7 linked regions of the Homo sapiens genome follow. The protein of the gene in region 3 interacts with the protein of the main gene of each other region in a pairwise test. Each region holds a gene or a part of one and is shown on either strand. Other genes may lie near its edges. The genes, in order: CYGB, EYA2, DDI1, SDS, UBE2K, PTPN11 and KLHL42.

Region 1 (3,500 bases), on a different chromosome or scaffold from region 3:
AAAGCGGGCCTGCCTGGGCCCCTTCCTGGCACTGCCATCTACTTTGTTGGGCAATCTTGGACATCAATTCCTAATTCATAGGATGGGGATTAAAACAGTGCCTACCTCAGGAGAGAATTGCAAGGATTCGTGAGATCGTACAGTAAGTGCTCAATAAATGTTCCCTGTTGTTTCCTCATCAGTAAAATAGAGGTAATACCCGCTTAGCTGTGGCAATTAAATACAATAACAGGCCGGGCACCGTGGCTCACACCTGTAATCCCAGCACTTTGTGAGGCCGAGGCAGGCAGATCACCGGAGGTCAGGAGTTCGACACCAGCCTGGCCAGCATGGCGAAACCCCGTCTCTACTAAAAACACAAAAATTAGCCGGGTGTGGTGGCGGGCACCTGTAATCCCAGCTAACTTTGTGAGGCTGAGACAGGAGAATCCCTTGAACCCAGGAGGCAGAGGTTGCAGTGAGCCAAGATTGCACCAGTGCACTGCAGCCTGGGCAACAGAGTAAGATTCTGTCTCAAGAAAGAAAGAAAGAAAGAGAGAGAGAGAGAGAGAGAGAGAGAGAGAAAGAGAAAGAGAGAGAGAAAGAAAGAAAGAAAGAAGAAAGAAAGAAAAAGAAAAAAGGTACAATAACATTGTAACACAGCAGGCAAATATATATATCATTGTTATTATTTTGTCAGGGTCTTGCTCTGTCACCCAAGCTGGAGTACGGTGGCGCCATCATGGCTCATGGCAGCCTCCAATCCTGGGCTCGTGATGCGATCGGATCTTCCTGCTGCAGCCTCCCAAGTAGCTAGGACTACAGACGGGCACCACCACACCCAGCCAATTTTTTTCTTTTTTTCTGGAGACAGGATCTCACTATGTTGCCCAGGCTGGTCTCAAACTCCTGGCCTCAAGTGATCTTCCTGCCTTGGCCTCCCAAAGTTCTACAGGCATGAGCCACCACACCTGACCTTTTATTATTATTATTATCATTATTTCTTTGGATTCAGGGTCTCACTCTGTCACCCAGGCTGGAGTGCAATGGCACAATCTTGGCTCCCTGCAGCCTTGGCCTCCCGGGTTCAAGTGATCCTCCCACTTTAGGCCCCTGAGTAGCTGGAATCAAAGGTGTGTGCCACCACACCTGGCTAATTTTTTGTATTTTGTAGAGACAGGGTTTGCCACATTGCCCAGGCTGGTCTCAAATGCCTGAGCTCAAGCAATCCACCCGCCTCGGCCTCGTAAAGTGCTAGGATTATAGGCGTGAGCCACCGTGCCCGGCCATATCATTATTTTTTATTGCAATTGTAAAACCTCCAAAGTCTGAGATGCTTGTTTAAGTCCAAATTGGGTTTTTCACATTTGTCCCTCATTACAGTGCTTCTCCAGAAAATTCAATGTATTTTCAGACCCGTCGCCTCACGTGTCCTCACCCGTGTATCCATGAAGCAGTGAGCGGGGGCCCTCCTCTTGCCCTTCTGCAAACAGGGAGCTTGTGAAGCGGTTTGCCCAAGGTCACAGTTGGCCTCTGAGAGGGGCCCTCCTGAGTCTCCACACAGACTGTGCCCTGGTCACTGTGCAAACTTCCCCGCCAATAGCAGTTCCACCAGCAGCAGGGATGACCCGGCCAGATGCCCTCTCCGCATCTGTTCCAGCCCTCACATCTGAGACTCGACTCCTGGCCAAAGGGCTACTTCCGCAAATTATCAGCTCTCTCTGATCGCAAAGGGGACACACGAAGGGGCAGAACAACCTGGAAGAACAGGTCCAGGCCACTCCATACATTTTCTGGGGATTCACTTAAGTTATTTAAGTTCTGATTGAGTCGGTGCCCATGTCTCACATGACATCCAGCCCCGACAGGGAGGGGAGGTGAAAAAGTCATTGTCGGCCGGGCGTGGTGGCTCACACCTGTAATCCCAGCACTTTGGGAGGCTGAGGCAGGCGGATCGCCTGAGGTCAGGAATTTGAGACCAGCCTGGCCAACATGGTGAAACCCTGTCTCTACTAAAAATACAAAAAATTAGCTAGCCGGGCGTGGTGATGGATGCCTGTAGTCCCAGCTACTCAGGAAGCTGAGGCAAGAGAATCACTTGAACCCAGGAGGCAGAGGTTGCAGCGAGCCAAGATTGCACCACCACACTCCAGCCTGGATGACAGAGTGAGACTCCATCTCAAAAAAAAAAAAAAAAAAAGCCATTGTCATTTTTCACACTGCAGGGCCCCAGCTAGGGCAGGGGGTCAGAGGGTGCGTGAGAGCCTTGGGATCCAGTCTGACACGCTGGAAGGAGGGCAGGGAAGGTCACCTGAGTAGTGCCAATGGCCTCAGGGGCAAAGCATTTCCCCTGGGCCAGCCTGCTCCAGGTAAGGCATGTCTGACACAGGAAAAGGGTAGTAGAAAGGAATGTGGCTCACCCGAGGAACATTTTCCCAACTGTAAGTAAAGCCGCTGAGCCAGGACAGGGATGATGCGAGTATAGTGGGGAATGTGGACATGAGTTTGAAGAAGCGGGTGGGGGACAGTTCAGAAGTCTGGAATGCCCGGTTAAGGAGTTTCACTTTGGCAGACAATAGGGAGCCATTGAATGTTTTTGAGCATAAGCATGACTTCATGAAAGCAGTATTTTGGGAGAGTCAGAACAATTTCAGTCCAACTAGAGAGGATTTAATTTCAGATCAACTCATGATTCCAGAACCTGAGTTCTTACCCTCTCGGCTATGACTAGAGCAGGGCTTGAAGGGGGTGTAGAGTTTGGGAAGGAAGCAAGAAGCGAGGAAGACAGAGGCCTAGGAGATGAAGCCGCCAGCCTGAGCAAGCCTGGCAGATAGACATGGCCAGACTTGGTAGGGGTGAGCCGGCTTGGCCAGAGGGAGGAGGGTCTATGCTGAGGTCTACTGATGGTAGTGAAAACAGTGACGGTGCGGGGGTGGGGAGCACTGCGGTCCACTTCTTCAGCCCCCACTATCCTGGAAGCTTCAGGGTGGGCCCGAGGCAGCCTCCAGCTTCAGCGACCACCCCTGTTCCTCTTGCCAGGTTCTTTGTGAACTTCCCCTCGGCCAAGCAGTACTTCAGCCAGTTCAAGCACATGGAGGATCCCCTGGAGATGGAGCGGAGCCCCCAGCTGCGGAAGCACGCCTGCCGAGTCATGGGGGCCCTCAACACTGTCGTGGAGAACCTGCATGACCCCGACAAGGTGTCCTCTGTGCTCGCCCTTGTGGGGAAAGCCCACGCCCTCAAGCACAAGGTGGAACCGGTGTACTTCAAGGTATGCGCCCCCATCTGCTGCAGAGCCCCCACCGCCCACGCGTCATGGCCATCTGCAGCTCGCAGGCTCTGCGACGGCTCTCTGGAGCAACAGAGGTGATCCCCGGAGTGGCTGCGAGAGGGAGGGGCAGTGCCCGGCAGCAGGATGGAGGGGCTGGGTCCAGGGCAACCCTTGTCCTGAGAGCACGGGGTTCCCAAAGCTGCCAGACTGTTGCGTTAGGAATGATCCTCTCGGCCACACGTGGGGCGGA
Region 2 (3,500 bases), on a different chromosome or scaffold from region 3:
AGTGATACAATCCGCCATCTGTAAAACCTGGTGAAGACTACAATGTTACAACTTAGATTAGGTTTGCTCATATAGCATATCAGATCTGGAAGGTTCTGAGTGGGCACCATTCAAAGCCAGGGTTGGGAGGGGCCGTGCGTCTTTGGCAGGATCGAGTAGCAGGAGAAAAATGAGAAATATTTTGTTTTTCTTTTCCAATTCATTAAGGCTTGTTGAGGGGAGCAAGAACCTCATTTTTTTCCTTCCCATTACTTCCCTTTTATTTTAGGGGAAACATGCATTTCAAAGACTGCTCAATAGCAGCGTTGAAGTCTCAAGTTCAATCACAATGTCCCCATTGTGGCTGGGGGACTCCCTGGCCTTTAAGCTTGGGTTATAAAAATTTGGTCTGAGCCCAAAGTCTGGCTTTAATAGAATATTTTAATTTTGTGTAATGAATATTATTTTAAATCTGTTTGGCAGTTTTAAAATGTGTTCTTTTATTTTCAAATTAAAATTTACTAATGTTCAGTGCTTTCTTGGGGGTGGGGGTACAGCAAGAAATGGGGGTGGTAATAATACAAGCTACCATTTATTGAGTGCTTACTATGTGCCAAACACCCTGCTCTGTGCTCGGTGTGCCAGCCACTCTTTTAAGCCTCCCAACCACCCCAGGAACAGTTAACTGCTGTCTCCGATGTCTGGGACGTTGAGAGGGTCAGACCCCTGCTGGAGATGGCAGTCCGTGAGTGATGGACTGACTCAGGCTCAGGCCAGATCTGTCTGAGTCCAGGGCCTGTGCTATCGACCACTGCCCAACATTCTCTCGATACCTAAAATGACTCAACTGATCAATAGCTTATAGACACCGCACTGATCCAGTGCACTGTTCCCCATAATCTCAATAGCTAGCTCATTGAACATTGAATGGAGGCAGGCAGTGTAGCAAAGCTAAGTGTTTTCCATGTATCGCCTCATTTATATTCTCACAATGGCACTATGAAAAGTTATTTTATTATTGTTGTTACTATTATTATTATCATCCCAAAGAGTCTAAGTAATTTGCTTCAGGTCAAATTCATAAATAATAATAATAACTGTAGCTGACACTGATATAATTCATACCACTTGCCAGCCGTAGTTCCAAACACTTCATGTTTATTAACTCAATCTCCACGATAGCTTTCTGAGGAAGGTGCATTATTATTCACCCTGCTTTACAGACGAAGAAACTGAGGCACCGAAAAGTCTGGTAACTTACCCCCAAGTTAAACGCAGGAGTAGGTTAACACTGAGGGGAAGTGTAACCTGAGCAGCCTGGCTCCTGGACTCAAGCTCTTAATCTCGAGGCTGAAAGTCAGTACCCAGGCTGAGGTTTGGAAAGTCTGATTCTCTACATTCCTCCTCATTCTGCACAACGCATTGAGGGAAGCAGAGAGTTGCTGTCGGCCGAGTAAGCCTGGGGCACTGGTAAGTCCTATATGCCTAGTGCGGTTTCAGGTGCAGAAGCCGAGGCACTGCTCTTACTGAACCAGGCATAGCTTCTGTGGGTGAGGGTCTACAGACTGAGGTGTTGCTTCCATTCTGCTGCTCAAACATTAGAAAGCTCAAAAAGTCATGTCAACACCCTCTGCACCCTCAGGAAAGAAGAGGCCATGGGATACTGGTGAGAACACATTGGGATCCTCCTACCGGAGATGCTGGATTTGGTCCTTCTCACCTCTGGCTCTCCAGTAAACAGCCCAGAACACAGCTAAATAAGTGTTGTTAAGTAAATGGATGAAGGAATGAAGTCACTTGTAATTTTCCCCTATCACTGTGCAATGTGTCAAGCACATTGGAGGCACCTGATAAATAATAAATCATTGAAATGGTATACGAAATGTCCCAAGTGCATGTTATTTCTGGTCTACAAGGATTGTCTTGTCATATTGCAATAGCTTAGAGGTCAGCAAACTTTTTCTGTAAAGGGCCAGATAGTCTTTGCAGGCCGTATGGTCTTTGTAGTACGGCTGTTCAACCCTGCGGTTATAGGGCAAGAGCAGCTGTAAGCAATGACTTAGGCCACTAACTGCAGTGATGCTACGACCATTTCCATAGGTCCAGCTTGAAACATTCATTCATTTCTACAAGGGCAGATTCAAAATCTTGTGAGAATCTGCTGGCGTCTCTTACTTTCTCAACCTGATTTTTGTACCTAACCATCGATAAATATCCATAAGGCAATGCAAGTGGAAAAGGACTTTAAAATCTAGCTCTCCAGGGCAGACAGATGGAGAAAGGGAAGTTCTTGTTATACCACGGGAGCAGGCTGGACATCCTAGTGGTTAGGAATCAAAACTGGGTTTAATCCTGGCTCTGGCATAAGCCATGTGATCCTGGACAAGTTACTCTCCAGACTCAGTTTCCACATCTGTAAAATAGAAATAATAATAACAGCACGTTCCATCTACTGCCATTTGGAGACAAAACATATAAAGTATTTCCACAGCACAATGCCTGGGACATAATAAATATTCAATAAATAATAAGTGTTCAATAAAACCTGTGATTCCCAAACAAGTCTTACAACTCTGTGTTTTCTTAAAAACAAAAGAAAATCCCCAAAACTAATTCACTAAAAATAAGCACAAAGGAATGACAGCAAGGCTACAGGAAGACATTTCCAAAATCGGGTCCCAAGGTGTTAGAAAAATTGTCCACTCTAGATCAAACCTCTAGCAAACCCCCAACCTCTCTGTGCTTCCCCCTCAAAAAAAGCCTGATTCTATGTCCTTTTATCAGTTTGTCTTTCTTGTGGGTGCCTGAGCAATGCTGAGACATTTTGAGCGTTTTAGACATTTGCTGAGTTTAAGGCATTCTTTCTCCCCTCCTACCGGTCTTCTCTCCACACCCCAGCCATTAACTCCTCCAGGGAGTATGGTCTGTTTAGCAAGAGGAGAGCACTGGACAGCTTGGGCCCATCGCAGACCGGAGGTGAATCATCTTCGGGGCTCCATTCTTTTTCATGTCTGGACGGGGCTAAAACTCTGTTGACAACACAGGCACAAGTCACAACTTGTTATACCACGTGACACCTTCCGAGCAGCGGAGGCTTCCCTCTACTCTAGGAGTCACACAAAAGGCCAAAGGTGCACGATTCTCCTCGGGGCTCCTTCCTCTCCGCTCCCTTCCCAACCAAGAAGGACACGCAGAACTTTGCTGGAGAGATCAATGTTTCTAGAACACCCTGAAACAAAAGTCCTGATATGTGCAAATAATACACACCCACAAAAGAAAATAACCTCTTTGCGCTGACACCCTGCCTCTCCGAAGAGGACGTTTTCTCCCTACTTGGAATTTCCATCAGCACCTGGGTTGGTACCAAACTCAGGACGTGGTGGACACGCTCTCTGACTCTGTATTTCAGGAAGCTGCCAATCAATAGAGATTTAAAGGTGAGTACTTATACCTTGCATCTTAAATGCTAGAAAACATAGTGGGAACAAAAAATTGTTTTGGAAACCATGAATACCTTAACC
Region 3 (4,229 bases):
TGGAGATTATAAGGGAGAGTTATTTTTTTCTGTATCCTTTGGGAATGCTTTATGTGGCTTTATATCTTGTCGGGAAAATAGAATAACTTAAAGGATATCCCAGATCCTTTAAGATAATGAGGTTTTAGTGCTTGAAAAGTGACCCCTCCCAGGAAAAAAAAAATTATTAGGTGAGGAATCTCAGTTGTAAAGTAGGTGAACTAATTTGTCTAAGTAATTAAGTGTAATCAAAACATACACATCTTGATTTTGAATCCGCTGTTTTAATACTAGTTTTGATAAATTATTGTCCTGAAACATTTCCCCTGCATCTGATGGCCTCAGGAAGCTGAAACTTTTCTCTCAGGTGCTTTAGCCATGGGTTGTAATTAAGTCTAGGATCTTCCATTACCCACTGTCAGTTGTAATAAACACTAACATTGTCAGAATGGATAATTCTGAATGAGGCCTTAGAGATCTTCTCATTCAAAAGTTTTCAAATGTTATTTTAACAGTGAAAACCTTTGTTCAAACAATACTGATGTAGCAGCAGCTTAATGTATAAAGCAGATTTTTACTTTGAAAAAGAGAGAGAGATGATCTAGTTGCAATGACTATTAGAGAACCTGGACCACTGCCTGTCCCCACCTCTCATTCCCACCACTGTACAACTTGACTCCCAAGAAGTACCATAATTTCTTTTTTAAAAAATCTAATTTATTGCCTTTGTTTTATAGCCAGAGTTTCTTTGAATGCAGGAGAAATAGAAAATTAATGTAGCATCCTTGGAGATAAATCCACTTTCTCAAATATGGCAAAAATAGTCTTTAGCTGTGGATTGCAGGGTGACTGCAGGGGATCCAGGGGAAGGGAAGGTGTAAATATGAGGAAATTGGTCTTTATGCTGCCCCAAACAGACATGTATAAGTATTAGTTAACATCATAGTGTAACTGACCTACCATTTCTAATACCCTTCCCAAAGAAAACAAAACCTGTGAAAATGGGCATATTTCTCTCAGTAGAAAGAATTATTAGTGCTGATGTGAAATAGTTTTATGTGGATGCCTTGTAAGGTCTGCAGCCATAGCATTTTTCCAGGGAATTCTGCAAAATAGCAATGATTTGGATAAGCCACCTGTAATCTGATAGGATAGTGTCTCTAAAGGAAGAAGCTGGTTTTCTTTTTCATGGATTATCTGGAAATCAGCTGGAGCCTCCAGAGCCTTCCCAGGATGCCTTTCAGTGATCTCTGGACAAGGGAAATGGAAGAGGGACCAAGACCAAGGAATCAGGATTGACGTTAGTTACCCATCTGAGAACGTAGTCCCAAGGCCAGGTTTAGTTGTTACTGATGTTTTTTAATGATTACATTGCCAGTAAGCTCTTAACTTATAATTGCCGGGGACCTGAGGCTCCCTCAAGGTGGTAACATATTTATAACGTGCTTTAATGCTCTTTTCGTCCTGAATCCATGACTGAATGTGTAATTTCCTTGTCCGAAGACTCATCTTGCCCACTTACCATCCTAGAGCATAAGGGCAACTCTCCCTCAGGAAGAAAATAAGTCTGCGTGCCAGTGGTGCCGATGACCAGCACATTTTTCTTCAAATCGATGGAACATTGATGTCTCCGGAGCATATCTAGGCCTAGAAGCATATCCATGGGTTGATCCTCAAGTATGGAGAAAGAGCACTGTAAGAAATCACCTTCAATTTGAATCTGAGCTAGATGAACACGGCCAATAATTCTCTGTGTGCCCACTCCTTTAGCAACCCCAGCCCACCGTCGGTCCACCAGCCTCATGATGTTACATCGCTCGGCACAAGCCTGGCTCATAATGGTCATCTGGGCGCCCGAGTCAACAAAAGCCTTCAAAGGATGCCCATTCACTTTGCAGTTAATGTAGAGCATCGTCACTTGTCCAAAACTCTCGGGGGCCTCTTCTATCGCTATATTCATGTTTTCTTCAATGTTTTGCTGCCGGATTTCCTCTTCTATTTTGGCCTGAGCTTCCCGATCCAGTGGGTCGGCTGTGTAGAGACGAAGCCTCTCTTGCTCTCTCAAGGCCTTTTCCCTTTGCTGCTCCATCAGCACCTGAGAAAAGGTCTCAAGGCTTCCGCTGAGCAGGGCTTCCGCCAAGGGAGGGTTGCGTTCCTTGAGCAGGGACAGATCGTGGGGGTTGGAGAGCAGCATGCTGCGGATCAGGGCGGGGCTGCCCAGACCTTGCAGGCCGGCCACCTTCTCTCCTGACGCCAAGCCCTGTGACCGCTGGGCAGCGGGTGTGCGCTGCTGCTGCTGTCCAGGGTGCTGTGGACGGGAGCTGGACGTCCCAGGCACCGCAATGCCACTGAAGTCTACACGAGGCTGGTTCGGGGCACGCCCTGGAGCCCGAGGTCCCACATTGTCCTTCTGCAGTAAAACCACGATATCGCCATCTTTGAGGCCGTAGGAGCCCAGGGAACAGTGGTCCTCGATGAGGAGTCGCTCCATGTGGATGATCTGGATCTCTTCGACGGGGACTCTGGACTCCGCTTCGCAGAGGACCTTGAAGTTTCGGAGCTCAAAGTCGGGGCTGACCTGGAGAGAGAAGGTGACCTCGGAGAGGTCCCTCCGCACGCAGTACACGGTGATCAGCATGGCGGGGGCCCGGGCGGGCCGGGCTAGCAGAGGGCATGGGCGGCTCACTGGCGGGCTGGGGCGGGCCTGCGTCGTTGGTGCCGCTGCTCCTCAGGACTTGGTAGGTAGGGACCGTCCGGGCTCATTCACCTCTCAGAGAGGCGCGGACACTCATCTGTCTGGGGGCTGTCTCCCAGCCTCAGTGCCTGCTGTGTGGCCAGGTGGAGCCTTGAGGTAGCACGTTGTGTTCCAAAGTCCATTTCTAAGTGTGCTGTTTGGAACCTAGAATGCCTACTCCCATGGATACACGATGGCTCAAAGCTGTCAGGTTTCAAGGCCAGCCCTTCAAAGCCTATTTAACACATGATATGAAAGAAATGATTTCAACACATTTTTTTTTGAGACAGGATCTTATCCTGTCACCCAGGCTGGAGTACAGTGGCATAATCACAGCTCACTGTAGCCTCGACCTCGTAGGCTCAAGCAGTCCTCCTCTCTCAGCCTCCTGAAAAGCTGGAACTACAGGCACAGTCTACCATGCCCGGCTAATTGTTGTATTTTTTTTTAATAGATTTGGGGTCTCACTGTGTTGTCCGGGCTGGCCTCCAACTCCTGGGCTCAAGCAATCCCCCACACTTCGGCCTCCCAAAGTGCTGGAATTACAGGTGTGAGCCACCATGCCTAGTTTTTCAACACTTTCTAAACAGCATATTATCATTTGTTTTGTTCATTTTAGAGTTGTATTCTTTGTACTTTTGTTTTTTCCCCAAACAGTAAGGATTTGTTTCTTACATGGCAAGTACCATTCTATGTGCATAGTAGGAAAGTCAGATTTGGAGCCTGCCCTTGAGGAGCTCACATTTCTGGAAAGGGATAGACAGGTGAATGGGTAATCACAATACTAAAGGCAAAATCTTTTACAAAGACATGTTCAGGGTACTGCCTTTAGTATCACCAACAGAACAGAGGATATTTTCCTAAGGAGGAGACAAGCTGGATGTTGAAGGATGAGCATCTTCCAGGTGCAAAGTGGTCTCACTCCAAAGGAAAGCAGTTTCATGTTACAAAAGCAGGAATTTATGGCAAGGGCTGTTATTTCTAGAGAAAGATGAGACATTTTGTGCAATAAAAAAATTGTACATGACTTTGAATACCAGGATATGAAGCTGGAAAAAAATTAGTTGAGCCAATTGATGAAGTCATATGTGAATCTACGGAGTTTAAATATTAAATATTATCAATTAGCAAGAATTCCTCCTCCAAAAAAAAAAAAAAAAAAAAAGAAAAAGAAGTAAGGAAGGAAAGGAAAGGGAAAAGATTTGAAGCAGGTGTTTGTGATTTTTTTTTTTAAATTGACTTAAGGAAGAGGCTTCTTGCAACACATGGAGGACATAATGTGGCAGGAGGGCCAGTCAGGAGGCTTTTCCAGTGGTTCAAAGAGGGAGCTGTTGCTAGAGTGTGGAAAGTCAGGAGGCCCAAAGCCAAAGCAGTAGAGAATAAACATGTTTCTTGAGTAAAATGGACAGAGTGTGCATACCCCTTGGAGGTGGGGAGTGTAAAAAAGTGGAATGTGTGGATAACACAGAGGGTCTCTAAAATGGGATATAGGGTAGATGGGCCATTGCCTTGAAGG
Region 4 (4,238 bases), on a different chromosome or scaffold from region 3:
TCGTCTACAGATCGAGACTCTGTCTCAAACAAACAAACAAACAAACAAAAACAACCTGGCAGCTGGCTCTTCTGACATGCAGTTCCAAGTATCTTGGCTTAAATGGACGATCCCAGGACCCAGCAAAATGCCTGACTCATAGTAGATGTTCAATAAATATTTATTTAAAAAAAAACAAAATAACCTAACTTTTGGGAAGCCCAATATTCAGTTAGGAAAAGCTCTTTCATAATTATTAATTTTGTCATAATTATTATAGCAGTGACTAATCACAGCTTTTAAATTTTATTCATTCATTCATTCATTCATTCATTCATTCATTCCAGTAGAGATGGGGTTTTGCTATGTTGGCCAGGCTGGTCTCCAACTCCTGGCCTCAAGCGTTCTGCCCACCTCAGCCTCCCAAACTGCTGGGATTACAGGCATGAGCCACAGCACCTGGCTTGCTGTTGTTTTAAGTCACATTTTGGGGTAGTTTGGTACACAGCAACAGGAAGGGGAATATTAACATAATTTGCCCAAAGTCACGCTGTGAGTGAGGCAGGGAGGCAGGATTTGAACTCGGGCAGCTGGCTCCAGGGCTCAGGCTCTCTCTGCGACCCATGGGTGTGGCTCAGGCTCCTGCTTCTGGATGGGCTCTGGGGGATGAAGCAGCTGGGGTGGCCCGGGGTCTAGCCACAGCCACGTCCACCCACCCAGCCTTCCCATCTCCCCTGCCTTCTGCTGAGAGTCTCAGGGAGGATTTGATTCTCCTCAACTTGGGCCGGGCCAGAAGAGATCAGCTGACGATGGCCAAGGGGCTCTCTGGTTCCCCCTCCCTCCACCATCCCAGAAGGCCAGGCAAGGGTGGCTAGCCAGAGACCCATCTCCAATGCCACCTTGTCCAGCCCCCTGTCCTGGGCACTCCTAGCTTGGACATCCATCCCCCGCTCCCAGAATGAGCCAGACATCCCTTGGTCAGAGGGAGAATGAGGGGTGGGGATTCCAACTGCCCCGCCAGACTTAGCATCCCCTAAATAGGTCACCCCTTGTCTATCTGAATTAACTGACATTCGGGGCCTGGGAGGGGAACTTGAACAGACACCCTCTCTCCGCTGGATCTCTCGAATAAAAATCAGAGACTGGGGCAAACTTCAAAACAGGACATCCCCAAATCGGCATGAACTTTCAGCTCCTGGAGGTTAATCCCCAAACAATGGGATCCCGGTTTTTATTTAGTTATTTTTAGAGAACCTCCCTCTGTCACCCAGGCTGGAGTGCAGCGGCATGATCTCGGCTCACTGCAACCTCCGCCTTCTGGGTTCAAGCGATTTTCCTGCCTCAGCCTCCCAAGTAGCTGGGATCACAGACGTGCACCACCACGCCCGAATAATTTTTGCATTTTTAGTGGAGACAAGGTTTCACCATATTGGGCAGGCTGGTCTCGAACTCCTGACCTCAAGTCATCTGCCTGCCTTGGCCTCCCAAAGTGCTGGGATTACAGGCGTGAGCCACCACACCGACTGACTTGACATTAAAGGCCGGTGTAGGTCACCAAGGCCTGGCCTCAGGGACAATCGGGGTGGGAGTCAGAGGAGCCGGCCACGAAGACCCTTTTCAGGTGGGTTTGGGGCGCCTCTCTCGCCGTTTGTCCCAGGCGGTGCCATGGGATGCCTTCAGGTAAAAGGACAGGGCTCCCTCTGCCGCGGCTTTCCGTGAAGTGAGCATCCATTAACTGCATCCAGCCTGCCCCAAGGATCCCTGCCCCAAGGATCGCAAGACTTCAGAAGAGGTTGTGCCCGGGGAGGAGGAGGGAGGGAGCCCTGAAGCCGCTGTCTGCCCACTCCGGCAGTCGGAAGCCACCTTCCCTTTCACTTGGTTCACAGTAAGTGCTCAGTCGATATGAACTATTATGAAATCTGGGCTGGACACCTTAAGTGCAGGTCATCCTTTCACCGTCACAACCACCTGAGGAGGAAGGCGCTATGCTCATCCCCATTCTACAGATGTGGAAGCTGAGGCACAGAACTGGACACAAACTCAGTGTTTAGGCCCAAATGGCTGTTTTTTAAAAATTTGAGACAAGGTCTTGCTGTGTCACCCAGGCTGGAGTGCAGGGGCGCAATAATTGCTCACTGCAGACTCGACCTCTTGGGCTCCAGCGATCCTCCCAACTCAGCCTTCCCAGTAGCTGGGACTACAGGTGTGCACCACCACACTATACTAATTAAATTCTTTTTTTAGGTCAGGAGTTCGAGACCAGCCTGGCCAACATGGTGAAACCCCATCTCTACTAAAAATACAAAAATTAGCCGGGCGTGGTGGCACACGCCTGTAGTCCAAGCTACTCGGGAGGCTGAGGCAGGAGAATCGCTTGAACCCAGGAGGTGGAGGTTGCAGTGAGCCCAGATTGTGCCATTGCACTTCAGCCTGGGTGACAGAGTGAGACCTCTGTCTTAAAAAAAAAAAATTTTTTTTGTAGAGATTGGGGGGGGTCTCACTCTGTTGCCCAGCTCAGTCTTGAACTTGTGGCCTCAAGCAACCCTCCCACCTCAGCCTTCCAAAGTGTTGGGATTACAGGCATCAGCCACCATGCCCAGCCTTGACAGACTCTTTCTATGTCTCCCTCTTCCCCTGGGAAACCACAGGCTAGCCCGGGACACTCCAGTCCTGAGGTGGGACTGAGGATGGGGCCACTTACCCGGCAAAGGTGATGGGTCTGAGCAGGAGTCAGAGCCAAGCCAGCGAGGGAGGGATCAACTGAGTAGATAGCCCACGAAGAGAGGGGGCTGAGGACGGGTGGACAGTCTTCTGAATGGTCCCAGGGGCTACTTGGTCCTGGGCTTTATTCCTCTGGCACCTCTGGGCAGCCAATGGGGCCCTGGGGCTGGCTACACCCCCCCCTCCCTCCTGCCAGGACCCACCCCCCTGGCTTGAGGCCACTGAGGCTGTCAGAAGGGAGGTGGAATCTGGCCAAGCTTTCTTCTTTGGCAGCTTCCTCCTGCCTTTCCCACAACCCACTCCTCCTCCCTCTTTCCACTTCCCCTTTCTGTCCTCAGTTTCGTGAAAGGAAAATAAAAAATTGGGACCCCCAACTCACTATGCCAAAAGAAAAAGAATTAAGCTAAAAGCTGAGTCATGTAAGAAACTGCCTTTCCTTTAGTTCCTAAGCAGATAGCTTCAGATGAAAGGTTAAATATTGGCTCCGCATTTTGGGAGGCCGAGGCGGGTGGATCACCTGAGGTCAGGAATTCGAAACCAGCCTGGCCAACATGGTGAAATCCCGTCTCTACTAAAAATACAAAAATCAGCCGGGTGTGGTGGCACGTGCCTGTAATCCTAGCTACTCAGGAGGCTGAGGCACAAGAATTGCTTGAACCTGGGAGGCAGAGGTTACAGTGAGACTAGATCTCGCCACTGCACTCCAGCCTTCACAACAGAAAGAAAAAAAAAAGTTAAATATCTCCACAGGTCGCTACTCTATGTTCACCTTATCTTATGTAAAGTGCCGATTTATTGAGATCAAGACAAATACATAATTGGCTACTTCCCTATCTGCCCCTCTTCTCTTACAAACTGTGGATTTGGTAATGTGGCCATAGCCTCCTTCTTTCCCCTCCAGCTTGCTTTTCTCCTTTAAATACTGACACCTAAAGTCATCTCTGGAGAAAAGCACAGACCTGTCTCCCAGGTGCATTCTTAACCCTGGCGAAATAAATTTCTAAATGGATTGAGTCCTGTCTCAATCTTTTTGATTCTTTTTGATTTACAGATTGGAGACTCATGAAAGGGACCCTGGGTGGAGGTGGCCCTGACCTTTGACAAGTCTCCTACTGGTGCTTGGTGGGTCTTGCTCTGTCACCCTGGCTGGAGTGCAATGGCATGATCTTGGCTCACTGCAACCTCCATCTCCTGGGTTCAAGCGATGCTCCTGTTTCAACCCCCCAAATAACTGGGAGTATAGGCATGTGCCACCACACTCAGCTAATTTTTTGTATTTTTAGTAGAGATGGGGTTTCACCATGTTAGCCAGGCTGGTCTTGAAGTCCTGACCTCAAGTGATCCACCCGCCTCAGTCTCCTAGAGTGCTGGGATTACAGGCGTGAGCCACCATGCCGGCCTTGAGCGATCTTGATTGCCCTCCAAAATAGGACAGTTTGCTGAGGCCTGGGAGCTCCCCACCTCCAGAGAACTCCTGATCTCCCACAATTGGTTGATATCTAAGCTTGATTTCCCTGAACAGCTCCTTTTCTGCGTTT
Region 5 (3,500 bases), on a different chromosome or scaffold from region 3:
TAGGCAAATTGTAAAGTAAGGAAGAAAATATATGATAGGCAGATACATAATTATAAATGTCTATGACTTAACTATATAATTAAGATAAAGATCTAAGTAACTTTTAGCTCTACAATTTTTTAATTTTTATTAAGAAAATACTTTGCTTTTGCCTGCAGAGCCCTCTTAATTGGGATATTTTCATGTTTTGCATTTTAGGGCAGCTGCAATGACTCTCCGCACGGTATTATTGTCATTGCAAGCACTATTGGCAGCTGCAGAGCCAGATGATCCACAGGATGCTGTAGTAGCAAATCAGGTAAGATGGCCGCTTTTGAAAGACTTTCTTATATTATGTATGAGTCTCTAGCCACTTCAGTGGTTTGCACATTAACACATGAGCATACTCTATTGAAACTAAATTTTGAAATGGTTTTCTTTCTTGTGGTAGGATTATTTTGTCAGGTGTAATAGTGAAAATAGACTTTTAACATCCTAGTTTAATTGGATATAGATGCTGTTTTCCTAACATGAGTATTTTCAAACACATAAAGTCAAAAGAATTACATAGTGAACACCCATATTCCTACCATCTAGATTCTATGATTAATGCTCGTGTATGTGTCCATCTTTTTATCCTTCCTTTCAGTGATGATCCCTCCCTGCTAATAATTTTAATCACCTCCTATCATGGGACTTATGTGACATGGCACAGTTTCCAATGACCTTGTAATTTGTTGAACAGAATAAATATTTTTCATTTCGCTTTCTAGCTACAGTGGCTGAGTTTATTAGTTACAACGGAGACTGGACCTAAGTTATTAGTATCTGACCTGTTAAGAAACAGTTTGCTGGCCAGGTGTGTTGGCTCATGCATGTAATCCCAGCACTCTGGGAGGCTGAGGTGGGTGGTGGATCACTTGAGGTCAGGAGTTCCAGACCAGCCTGACCAACGTGGTGAAATCCTGTCTGTACTAAAAACACAAAACTAGCCTGGCGTGGTGGCACACACCTGTAGTCCCAGCTACCTGAGAGGCTGAAGTGGGAGAATCGCTTGAACCTGGGTGGCAGAGGTTGCAGTGAGCTGAGATCACACCATTGCACTCCAGCCTGGGTGACAGAACGGGACCCTGTCTCAAAAAACAAATTTGCCAACACCTACTCTAAGCCATTGGAATATAATGGACATTTTTTTTTTTAAACTTAGAAAGTTTTTCTTCTCTTGACTTCTAAGATATTACCCTCTTTTCTTCCTCACTTCATAGCTGTTCTTTGTTAGTTCCCACAATTATTTCCCTTCTTACTCGTCTTTCTTAAATGTAGTTCCTCAGTTCTGACCTTGTTACCTTTACTTTCTGTACACACTCACACTTGGATGATCATATCTGTACTGATGTTAGTACCTGTACATTGATAAAATGTTTAGGCTTGCCCTCTCTCCTAAGCACGAGAGCCTGGTGTTTAACTAAATTGGTAGGTGATGGTATCATAGAATGATAGGTTTGTAGGATTTATGATACTGCATTCAGTTTTGGCAGTGTTACATTCAGGTATCCAAGGAACATTCATATGGTTAACCACCCAAGTCACAGCCTTTGGAGTTTTTCTCTGTGTCTCCTTTGCTCCTGTTGATAACCATTCCCTGTATCATTCTGTCACTATATTTACATAATTACTCTGATTGCCATAGGTCACTTTTAAAAAATTGTTTCTTTTCAACTGCTCTGATAGATCTCCTTTTCTCAACCTCTTTCTTCCTTTCTCCATCTTCTACATTGCTATCAGGTAGCTTTATAAAGTGCAAATCTTACTTCACTAACAAAAACTTGTTCGTAGCTCTACTGTCATCTACTTGAGTCCAGATTCTTTAGTTTGCAGAGTTTTTCCATGATCTGAACTCTGCTTTATTTCCTAAATTCTTGTTTTCTTCAAACTCATGCTTTTTCAAGCATTGCATTCATTTTTACATATTGTATCCAATCTACCATATTTCCTCTGCCTGAGGAAACTTCCTCTTGGCAAACTTCTTTAACCTATAAGATTTTAATTTATATATTATCTTTCTTCTTTTCCCTTGAAGATCTGTTTATGTATATATGTATATATCCTTGTCAATATATTCTGTTATTTGTCTCAGAGTACTTCCAATTAGGGTTTTCCATGTTTTATATATGTGCTATTTGTTCATATTTGTTGTTATAAGCATGGCTTGTGTTCCAGCTTTGCTTTCCTATTGAGCTCTAAGCCTTACACGTTGAGGTTGGACTCAAGGGTTTCTTTTAGCTCCTAAAATAGTTCAATAATTTGACTTATTTCCTTGTGATGAATAAGTGGTAGAAACTAGATTTATCGTTTTAATATGTAATAGATTTAAATATATAAATTACTTTTAAAAGAAATATTAAAGTGAATTGAATAGTTAGTAATTTATACTTTGCTTTACTAAGTAATGGTGGTTCCAAAGTATTTGATAAATTTACCTCTTTCCAATGCATATGGGAAGTCTTTTAATAAAATTACTCTATTGTGAGTTTATAATCATCTCAAGTTATGTAATAAGTTAGGACTTTGCATGTGGGGTTTCCATAAATCACTGTACACTAATGCAGCTGTAAGAAAACAGAAGAATCTAGTTGTATTCTAGCCTGGGCTGTGGGTAATACAAAAGCTGGTTACATCGTAAAAAATTATTCTAATGTCCACATATTTTTATAAGCTAGTAATCTGTGTTCAGTTGTATAATGTTTGCTGCTTTCCAGTGTTTGGAACATCTCTTAATACCTCACTTAACCTAATTTTAGTCTTGCTAGTTATATTTGTTGAATTTGGAGATTAAAGTAGATTAATGTTACTTGTCTTTATTATTGTCAACACAAATTGTGAGTCGAAGCTTCAGGTTAAGTGGTCTTTTCTCGAGTGACATAGGTTGTCTATAATGCAAAGTGAATCACATTTTAAATGTAGATTTGTTTTATTTGGAAAAGTAGGATTGTAGGCGATTAAGAGCTGAAATATATCAAATATTATAACTGTAATGTCATGTCAATCAATTTTTCCCCCCATATAGTACAAACAAAATCCCGAAATGTTCAAACAGACAGCTCGACTTTGGGCACATGTGTATGCTGGAGCACCAGTTTCTAGTCCAGAATACACCAAAAAAATAGAAAACCTATGTGCTATGGGCTTTGATAGGGTAAGTACATAAGGGCATGTTGATTTTGATATATTGATTGATTTTAAATTATTGCAAATTCTTGGCTGACAAAAGTGGTTTAGAAAATAAGAGAAATTCGCAGCCTGGGCAACATGGCGAAACCCATCTCTACAAAAATTAGCTGGACATGGTAGTGAGTGCCTGTAATTCCAGCTACTCTGAAGGCTGAGGTGAGAGAATCCCTTGGGCCCAGGAGGTCGAGGCTGCAGTGAGCGATAGTCATGCCACTGCACTCCAGCCTTGGTGATAGAGCAAGACCCTGTCTCAAAAAAAAAAAAAAAAAAAAAAAAAAGGAAAATAAGAG
Region 6 (3,500 bases), on a different chromosome or scaffold from region 3:
CCTTTTACATCCCTTTTAAAAATGTCACTTAAGGCTGGGCAAAGTGGCTCATGCCTGTAATCCCTGCACTTTGGGAGGCTGAAGTGGGTGGATTACTTGAGGTCAGGAGTACAAGACCAGCCTGGCCAACATGGCGAAACTCCTTCTCTACTAAAATTAGCTGGATGTGGTACATGCCTGTAGTCCCAGCTACTCGGGAGTCGAGTCTGAGGCCCAAGAATTGCTTGAATCGGGGAGGCGTAGGTTGCAGTGAGCTGTGATCAGGTCACTGTGCACCAGCCTGGATGACAGAGTGAGACTCTGTCTCAAAAAAAAAAGTCACTTAGCTTAGATTGTCTCTACATATATAGGAAGAAGATGTAGGAATGAATGGTGCTGCTACAATTACGTCATCTGGATAGACCCAGAAACATGATACTTTTTGGTTTTCTGTAGCCTTGGTGCCATTGTTGATCTTTATTAATTATCATTATCCTCAAAATAGCCATAATGTGCTGAGTCTCTTCCTATTTGCTGGGCAGAGGCTGAGTATTTCAGCGAGCTCACTGAGTCCTTAAAATTGCATTATGATAGAGAGAAAGAGATTATTATTTGCATTTTGCAAAATGAAGAAATTGAGGTTTAGAGATACCCAAGGGCCACGTGAGTGTGAGTGCCTGGAATTGGAGCCTAAATCTAGTCATCTGATAGCAAAGCCTGTTTTCTTATCTGCTTTGCATTAAATATAAGTTTAAAATAGAACAATACTGGCCAGGCTGGGTGGCTCACGCCTGTAATCCCAGCACTTTGGGAGGTCGAGGCAGGCAGATCACCTGAGGTCAGGAGTTTGCAACCAGCCTGGCCAATATGGCGAAAGAAACCCCATCGCTACTAAAAATACAAAAATTAGCCAGGCATGGTGATGTGTGCCTGTAATCCCAGCTACTTGGGAGGCTGAGGCAGGAGAATGGCTTGAACCCGGGAGGCAGAGGTTGCAGTGAGCCAAGATCACGCCACTGCACTCCAGCCTGGGCAACAGAGTAAGACTCTGTCTTGGAAAAAAAAAAAAAAAAGAATGATACTATAGTCTGTGTTTATATGGTGGGGAAGGTTGAGTATCAAAAAAATAACAAAGAGGAATGAATGTCTTAAGTGAATGCCTGTTTCCCCATCTGCTTCCTCTTCTGCTGGGAGGAGAGACCTGGATCCCTAGAGGTTTCAGTTGCCTCCAGAGCTGAGTGCCACAGGGATGCAGGGGAATAGGGATGTTACCTGTCGCTGGTAATTCAGAGAGATGATTCAGGGTATAGTTACCTGAAAGAACAAATTGCCATGCCAGACGTCTTGGTTCTTATGACAGAGGCAAAGAGTTGCCTCCAGGATTGCCCAAAAGGAGACGAGTTCTGGGAACCTCACGAAGAGGACCTTTCAGTGGAACCTGGGGAGATTCTCTTCCTCTCCATTGGATTTAGGAAAGCTTAGAACCGGGTGATTCCTCAACCTCTTGATTTATTTAATTCTTTTCTGGTTTTTCTTGGCTCTACTCCAGGGGAATACGGAGAGAACGGTCTGGCAATACCACTTTCGGACCTGGCCGGACCACGGCGTGCCCAGCGACCCTGGGGGCGTGCTGGACTTCCTGGAGGAGGTGCACCATAAGCAGGAGAGCATCATGGATGCAGGGCCGGTCGTGGTGCACTGCAGGTGACAGCTCCTGCTGCCCCTCTAGGCCACAGCCTGTCCCTGTCTCCTAGCGCCCAGGGCTTGCTTTTACCTACCCACTCCTAGCTCTTTAACTGTAGGAAGAATTTAATATCTGTTTGAGGCATAGAGCAACTGCATTGAGGGACATTTTGATCCCAAGGCATATTTCTCCTAGACCCTACAGCACTGCCATTGGCCATGGCCATGGCAACATGCTCAGTTAAAACAGCAAAGACTAAGTCAGCATTATCTCTGAGTCCACCAGAAGTTGTGCATTAAACAACTTCATCCTGGCTCTGCAGTTTCTCCTTATTCTTCATGATGTTTGCTTTGTAGCTGTTGACTGCTTTGTAGGTATTGAGGTGGTGGGGGTGTGGTGGAAATAGGCCTGACTCTTGAGGATCCCTTAAGTCATTTTTGCTTGGTTCTCTTTTTCCTTCTTTTCTTCTACTCTTCTATGATTCATCTCTTTGATTGTGATTCTGTTCTCTCTCTCTCTCTCTCTTTTTTTTTTTTCGTTTTTGAGACAGAGTCTTGTTTTGTTGCCCAGGCTAGAGTGCAGTGGTGCCATCTTGGCTCACTGCAACCTCCGCCTCCCGGGTTCAGGCCATTCTCCTGCCTCAGCCTCCCAAGTAGCTGGGATTACAGGCATCTGACACTACGCCCGGCTAATTTTTGTATTTTAATAGAGACAAGGTTTTGTCATGTTGGCCAGGCTGGTCTCGAACCCTTGACCTCAGGTGATCCACCTGCCTTGTCCTTCCAAAGTGCTGGGATTACAGGTATGAGCTACCATGCCCGGCCCATTCTGTTCTCTTCTACCATAAATATATTTCTCCCCTAACACTATATTTGTTTGCTTCACAAGATTCCAGCTGCTTTTCCACCAAGGCCTTTGATGGAAGCTGTGCTGTGACCTCTGTAATGAGTCTGTGGGCTGCTGATTCTCCAGTTTGGGCTTCATGATTATACTGGGGAATATTGGGTTTCCTAAATCTCATTCATTTCTTGGGCAAGTAGATATATGTGAAAGTGTTTATTTGTCCAGTTGTTAAAGAAGCTACCATTTATTGAGCCAGCCTCTGAGCACAATGTTTTTTGTTTTGTTTTGTTTTTAATTTTTAAAATTATTTACTTCTTCTATTTCAATAACTTTATTATTATTATTTTTTGAGACAGAGTCTCACTCTGTCACCCAGGCTAGAGTGCAATTGAGCGATCTTAGCTCACTGCAACCTCTGCTTTCTGGGTTCAAGCAATTCTCATGTCTCAGCCTCCCGAGTAGCTGGGATTACTGGTACGTGACAACATGCCTGGCTAATTTTTGTGTTTTTAGTAGAGACGAGGTTTTGCTATGTTGGCCAGGCTGGTCTGGAACTCCTGGCCCCAAGTGATCCTCCTGCCTCGGCCTCCCAAAGTGCTGGTATTATAGGTGAGAGCCACTGCGCCCGGCCCTCTTTCAGTAATTTTGATGTATTTTTTTGTATATGATTCCTGTTTCATTCTGTCCAACCAGCACTCTGTATGGTATGTGCTGTTGTCCCCATTTCACAGATGCAGAAATTAAGGGTCAGAGAGGTTAAGGGACTTACCTCAGGCACGTTGTACTGGAGAAGCTGAACTCCAAGAGCAGGTTTGGGCTGACTCCAAAGCCCTATGCTTTTTGCCAACATATTTTCAAACATAAATAGACAATTTTATAAATAGCTCCAAAGAGTAGACATTGTTTCTGTTGATATTAATGGCTTGGTTTTGAGTCTGAAACCCCCATGAATGATTCTGTTGTCCCTGCTTTTTGTCCTTCTGCCCGCAGTGCT
Region 7 (3,500 bases), on a different chromosome or scaffold from region 3:
TAGTATTTTATCTCTGTGTAGTAGTTTCTGATAGACTATTTGATTTAATCATCTCTACCACCTTGTGATGGCTGTTACCCCATTTTACAGATGAGGAAGTGAGGTGGTTGGACCAGGGTCAGATAGCTGGTTATCAGCAGAGCTGGGACTAGAAGCGAGGTCTTCTGATTTGTGCTCAGGTTTTTTTCTGTTGCATCATGCTGCTGCTCATCCTCTTGTAAACTTGTGACTGTTGCACACCTCACAGCAGACTGACCCAACACTCCCAAGAGTTTATCCTTCCTGCCTTTTGTGTGCTATATCGAAACAAATTAATTTTGTGTTACTATTCAGTTCAAAAATCATAAGACTTATTTAGTGTCTGAAGCTGATAAGCAGCATTTAATTATTTTCTGAATATAGAGCTGGAAACCATTGTCCATCTCTTTTTCAAGTTATTATTTTTATGAAAGATGAGCATTTGTCAATAGAAGTATTTGTTGAATTAACATATGTAAAGACCCTAAGAATGCTGGATCAAAATATTTTGAGGCTGGTTGTGGTGTCTTATAACTATAACCCTAGCACTTTGGGAGGCTGAAGCAAGAGGATCACTTGAGGCCAGGAGTTCAAGATCATCTTGGACAACATAGTGAGATGCCATCTCCACAAAAAACTGTTTATAAAAAATTAGCTGAGTATAGCTGAATATGATGATACATACCTGTAGTCCAAGTTACTCGAGAGGCTGAGGCAGGAGACTCTCTTGAGCCCAGGAGTTCAAGGCTGCAGTAAGCTATGACTGTGCCACTGCAGTCTAGCCTGGGTGACAGAGCAAGACCCTGTTTCATAAATAAATTAGTAAATAAATAAATACAAACTGTGAATTTGTTCAGTGCTGACCTCTCCCCATCTTACATGTTGTGAAGCAGTATGTTAGATGCCCTTGGAGGCGGGAGGCAGGACCAGTGTCTTGCTCAGGTATACTCGTTGTGCAAGGATCTCCTGACCTACCCTTTAGCAGTCACTCCTCGCACCTGCCTGTCTCGACAGCACCAGTGTGTCCCTAAGATGAAGCCATACTACTCAGTAGGAAGAATGAAATACCCATTCTGAGAGGTGAAAGACAATGGGGTGATGTGGGTGCCTTCCCCTCTTACCCTTGTGCCTGCCCCTGAAAGAAAGTGTGGAGTTTAGTGTATACACATTGTCTTTGGTTGCTGGACTAAGGCTGAACAAGATTAATAACTTGTTGTATTGAACTGCTTATCTTCGATAGCTAGTGTTTGGACAGTGTGCCATTCCCGTGGAATCTTGGGGACAGGAGTGAGATTCGAGAAGCCATCCTTTCCTCCTCTGTCCTCAGGCGGAATGGCCCCCAACTGGGAGAGCGAATTTTCTTCAGATGTTCAGGAGAGTCTAGTAGTTCATGCCATTGTTACACTTTTCATTGATCAGAAGAACTAACTCTGTGGGCCTTTGTGTCTCTCTTTCAGGTCTAACTTCAAACTTGTGGCTGTTAATTCAAAACTCTATGCCATCGGAGGGCAGGCCGTTTCTAACGTTGAGTGTTACAACCCCGAGCAGGATGCGTGGAATTTTGTGGCGCCCTTACCCAATCCTCTGGCTGAGTTCTCTGCCTGTGAGTGTAAGGGAAAAATTTATGTCATTGGAGGATACACTACCAGAGGTAAGTGAAGGGACCAGGTAGGTGGTCTGCCCATGTGTAGGCGTCAGCAGTCTGGGAAGGGCAAGAGGGTGTCAGAGGAAGCCCCGACATATCCGAGTGTCATGTTATGCTTTAATAGTGTACACTTACACATCTGGAAGGAAGAGAGTTCCATATGGCAGGGATGATTGGGACAGGAGGGATCTTTTGATAACTTTGTGTGAGCATGAAAATCGAATGGGGAAGGGAGAGCTGTGAAAAAAAAATGTTATCTCTTTTTTTTTGCTTCTGGAAACCCAGCTTTTTGGTCAGCCGTCTTGTGATTTGGCTGGGCCTGGTTTGTGGGGGTCGCTCTCTGAGGTTGGGTAGCTCTTTGGAGAAGATTATCTGGGAACTCCCATCCTTATCCCAAACATACACCAAACCTGCCCCCATCCACCATTATGGAATTTAGTACCAGAGCATCCTTGCAGATTAGTTCTCATTTTCTCTCTTTGTGAGCACACACACATCAGGTAGAGGTTCCAGAAACCCAGCTTTAGGACACTGTTCACATATCACAGGAGGAGCAAGGACATGAATACAAGAGAGCTCTTTCCTGACCAGCAGTGGGAGGTGGTTGTACTATCTATTTATTTGTTTATTTATTTATTTATTTTTTGAGATGGAGTCTCCTTCTGTCACCCAGGCTGGAGTGCAGTGGCGTGATCTCGGCTCACTGCAATCTCTGCCTCCTGGGTTCAAGCAGTCCTCCTGCCTCAGCCCCCCAAGTAGCTGGGATTACAGGCTGCACCACCATGCCCCGCTAATTTTTGTATTTTTAGTAGAGATGGGGTTTCACCATGTTGGCCAGGCTGGTCTGTAACTCCTGACCTCAGGTGATCCACCTGCCTTAGCCTCCCAAGGTGCTGGGATTACAGGTGTGAGCCACCGTGCCCGGCCTGGTTCCACTATTTATTAAAATGTATATATGTGTTTTTCACTTTTTTGGTAGGCATTTTATTGTTAATAATTTGGAAATTAAAAAAATTTCTCCACAAGCTTATTTTTTGTGGAGACAAGGTCTCCCTGTGTTGCCTAGGCTGGTCTTGAATTCCTGGGCTAAGTGATTGTTCTGCCTTGGCCTCTCAAAGTGCTGGGATTACAGGCATAAGTCACCATGCCCTGCTTGCCAGCAAGTTTTATACTGCTCTTTTTGGTAGGGAATTGTCTCAGGTTACAGTGATAGAGAACAATGTAGTTGTTGGTGGGATACAGTGGCTCATGACTGTAATCCAGCACTTTGGGAGGCTGAGGCAGGAGGATTGCTTGAGGCTGAGAGTTGAGGACAGGCCTGGGCAACATAGCAAGACACCTTCTCTAAAAATGAAAAAAATTAGCTGGATGTGGTGTCATGTACCTGTAGTCCCAGTTGCTTGGGAGGCTGAGGCAGGAGGATCACTTGAGCCTGGGTGTTCAAGATAGGCCTGGTCAACACAGCAAGACCCCTTCTCTAAAAATGAAAATAAAAAAATTAGCTGGTTGTGGTGGCATGTACCTGTAGTCCCAGTTACTTGGGAGGCTGAGACAGGAGGATTGCTTGAGCCAGGGGTTTGAGGCTGCAGTGAGCTATGACTGCTCCCCTGCACCCCAGGCTGGGTGACAGAGTGAGACCCAGTCTCTAAAATAAAAAAAAAAAAAAGAAAAGAAAAAATAAAACTGTGGTTGTGGGAAGACAGACAATGGGGGACAGTCAAGCAGAGGGGTGCCTTTCCTTCCCTCTACTCTCCAAAGCAGATGTCTCCAAGTTACCTCTTAGCCAAGGAAATCTATTTCTGCATTTGGTCTGTGTGACTCTATGGAGCCCAGGACT

What was found.
Region 1: the proteins of DDI1 (region 3) and CYGB interact in binary tests that used the Homo sapiens proteins (3 or more experiments, as listed by UniProt).
Region 2: the proteins of DDI1 (region 3) and EYA2 interact in a two-hybrid assay, tested with the Homo sapiens proteins (one large-scale study listed by IntAct).
Region 4: the proteins of DDI1 (region 3) and SDS interact in binary tests that used the Homo sapiens proteins (3 or more experiments, as listed by UniProt).
Region 5: the proteins of DDI1 (region 3) and UBE2K interact in binary tests that used the Homo sapiens proteins (3 or more experiments, as listed by UniProt).
Region 6: the proteins of DDI1 (region 3) and PTPN11 interact in a two-hybrid assay, tested with the Homo sapiens proteins (one large-scale study listed by IntAct).
Region 7: the proteins of DDI1 (region 3) and KLHL42 interact in binary tests that used the Homo sapiens proteins (3 or more experiments, as listed by UniProt).

Annotation. Positions count from the first base shown.
Region 1 is NC_000017.11:76,531,210-76,534,709, reverse strand, and holds part of CYGB (cytoglobin), read left to right. Parts: intron 1-3,018; coding exon 3,019-3,250; intron 3,251-3,500. UniProt on the Homo sapiens protein: Probable multifunctional globin with a hexacoordinated heme iron required for the catalysis of various reactions depending on redox condition of the cell as well as oxygen availability.
Region 2 is NC_000020.11:46,901,343-46,904,842, reverse strand, and holds part of EYA2 (protein phosphatase EYA2), read right to left. Parts: intron 3,417-3,500; exon of another isoform or gene 3,095-3,416; intron 1-3,094. UniProt on the Homo sapiens protein: Functions both as protein phosphatase and as transcriptional coactivator for SIX1, and probably also for SIX2, SIX4 and SIX5.
Region 3 is NC_000011.10:104,035,211-104,039,439, reverse strand, and holds DDI1 (protein DDI1 homolog 1), read right to left. Parts: upstream 2,801-4,229; 5' UTR 2,618-2,800; coding exon 1,427-2,617; 3' UTR 244-1,426; downstream 1-243. UniProt on the Homo sapiens protein: Probable aspartic protease. Seems to act as a proteasomal shuttle which links the proteasome and replication fork proteins like RTF2. Required, with DDI2, for cellular survival following replication stress.
Region 4 is NC_000012.12:113,401,088-113,405,325, forward strand, and holds the start of SDS (L-serine dehydratase/L-threonine deaminase), read right to left. Parts: upstream 2,801-4,238; 5' UTR 2,681-2,800; intron 1-2,680. UniProt on the Homo sapiens protein: Catalyzes the pyridoxal-phosphate-dependent dehydrative deamination of L-threonine and L-serine to ammonia and alpha-ketobutyrate and pyruvate, respectively.
Region 5 is NC_000004.12:39,774,636-39,778,135, forward strand, and holds part of UBE2K (ubiquitin-conjugating enzyme E2 K), read left to right. Parts: intron 1-198; coding exon 199-298; intron 299-3,046; coding exon 3,047-3,175; intron 3,176-3,500. UniProt on the Homo sapiens protein: Accepts ubiquitin from the E1 complex and catalyzes its covalent attachment to other proteins. In vitro, in the presence or in the absence of BRCA1-BARD1 E3 ubiquitin-protein ligase complex, catalyzes the synthesis of 'Lys-48'-linked polyubiquitin chains.
Region 6 is NC_000012.12:112,484,947-112,488,446, forward strand, and holds part of PTPN11 (tyrosine-protein phosphatase non-receptor type 11), read left to right. Parts: intron 1-1,516; coding exon of another isoform or gene 1,517-1,528; coding exon 1,529-1,683; coding exon of another isoform or gene 1,684-1,687; exon of another isoform or gene 1,688-1,977; intron 1,978-3,496; coding exon 3,497-3,500. UniProt on the Homo sapiens protein: Acts downstream of various receptor and cytoplasmic protein tyrosine kinases to participate in the signal transduction from the cell surface to the nucleus. Positively regulates MAPK signal transduction pathway. Dephosphorylates GAB1, ARHGAP35 and EGFR.
Region 7 is NC_000012.12:27,790,233-27,793,732, forward strand, and holds part of KLHL42 (kelch-like protein 42), read left to right. Parts: intron 1-1,475; coding exon 1,476-1,669; intron 1,670-3,500. UniProt on the Homo sapiens protein: Substrate-specific adapter of a BCR (BTB-CUL3-RBX1) E3 ubiquitin-protein ligase complex required for mitotic progression and cytokinesis. The BCR(KLHL42) E3 ubiquitin ligase complex mediates the ubiquitination and subsequent degradation of KATNA1.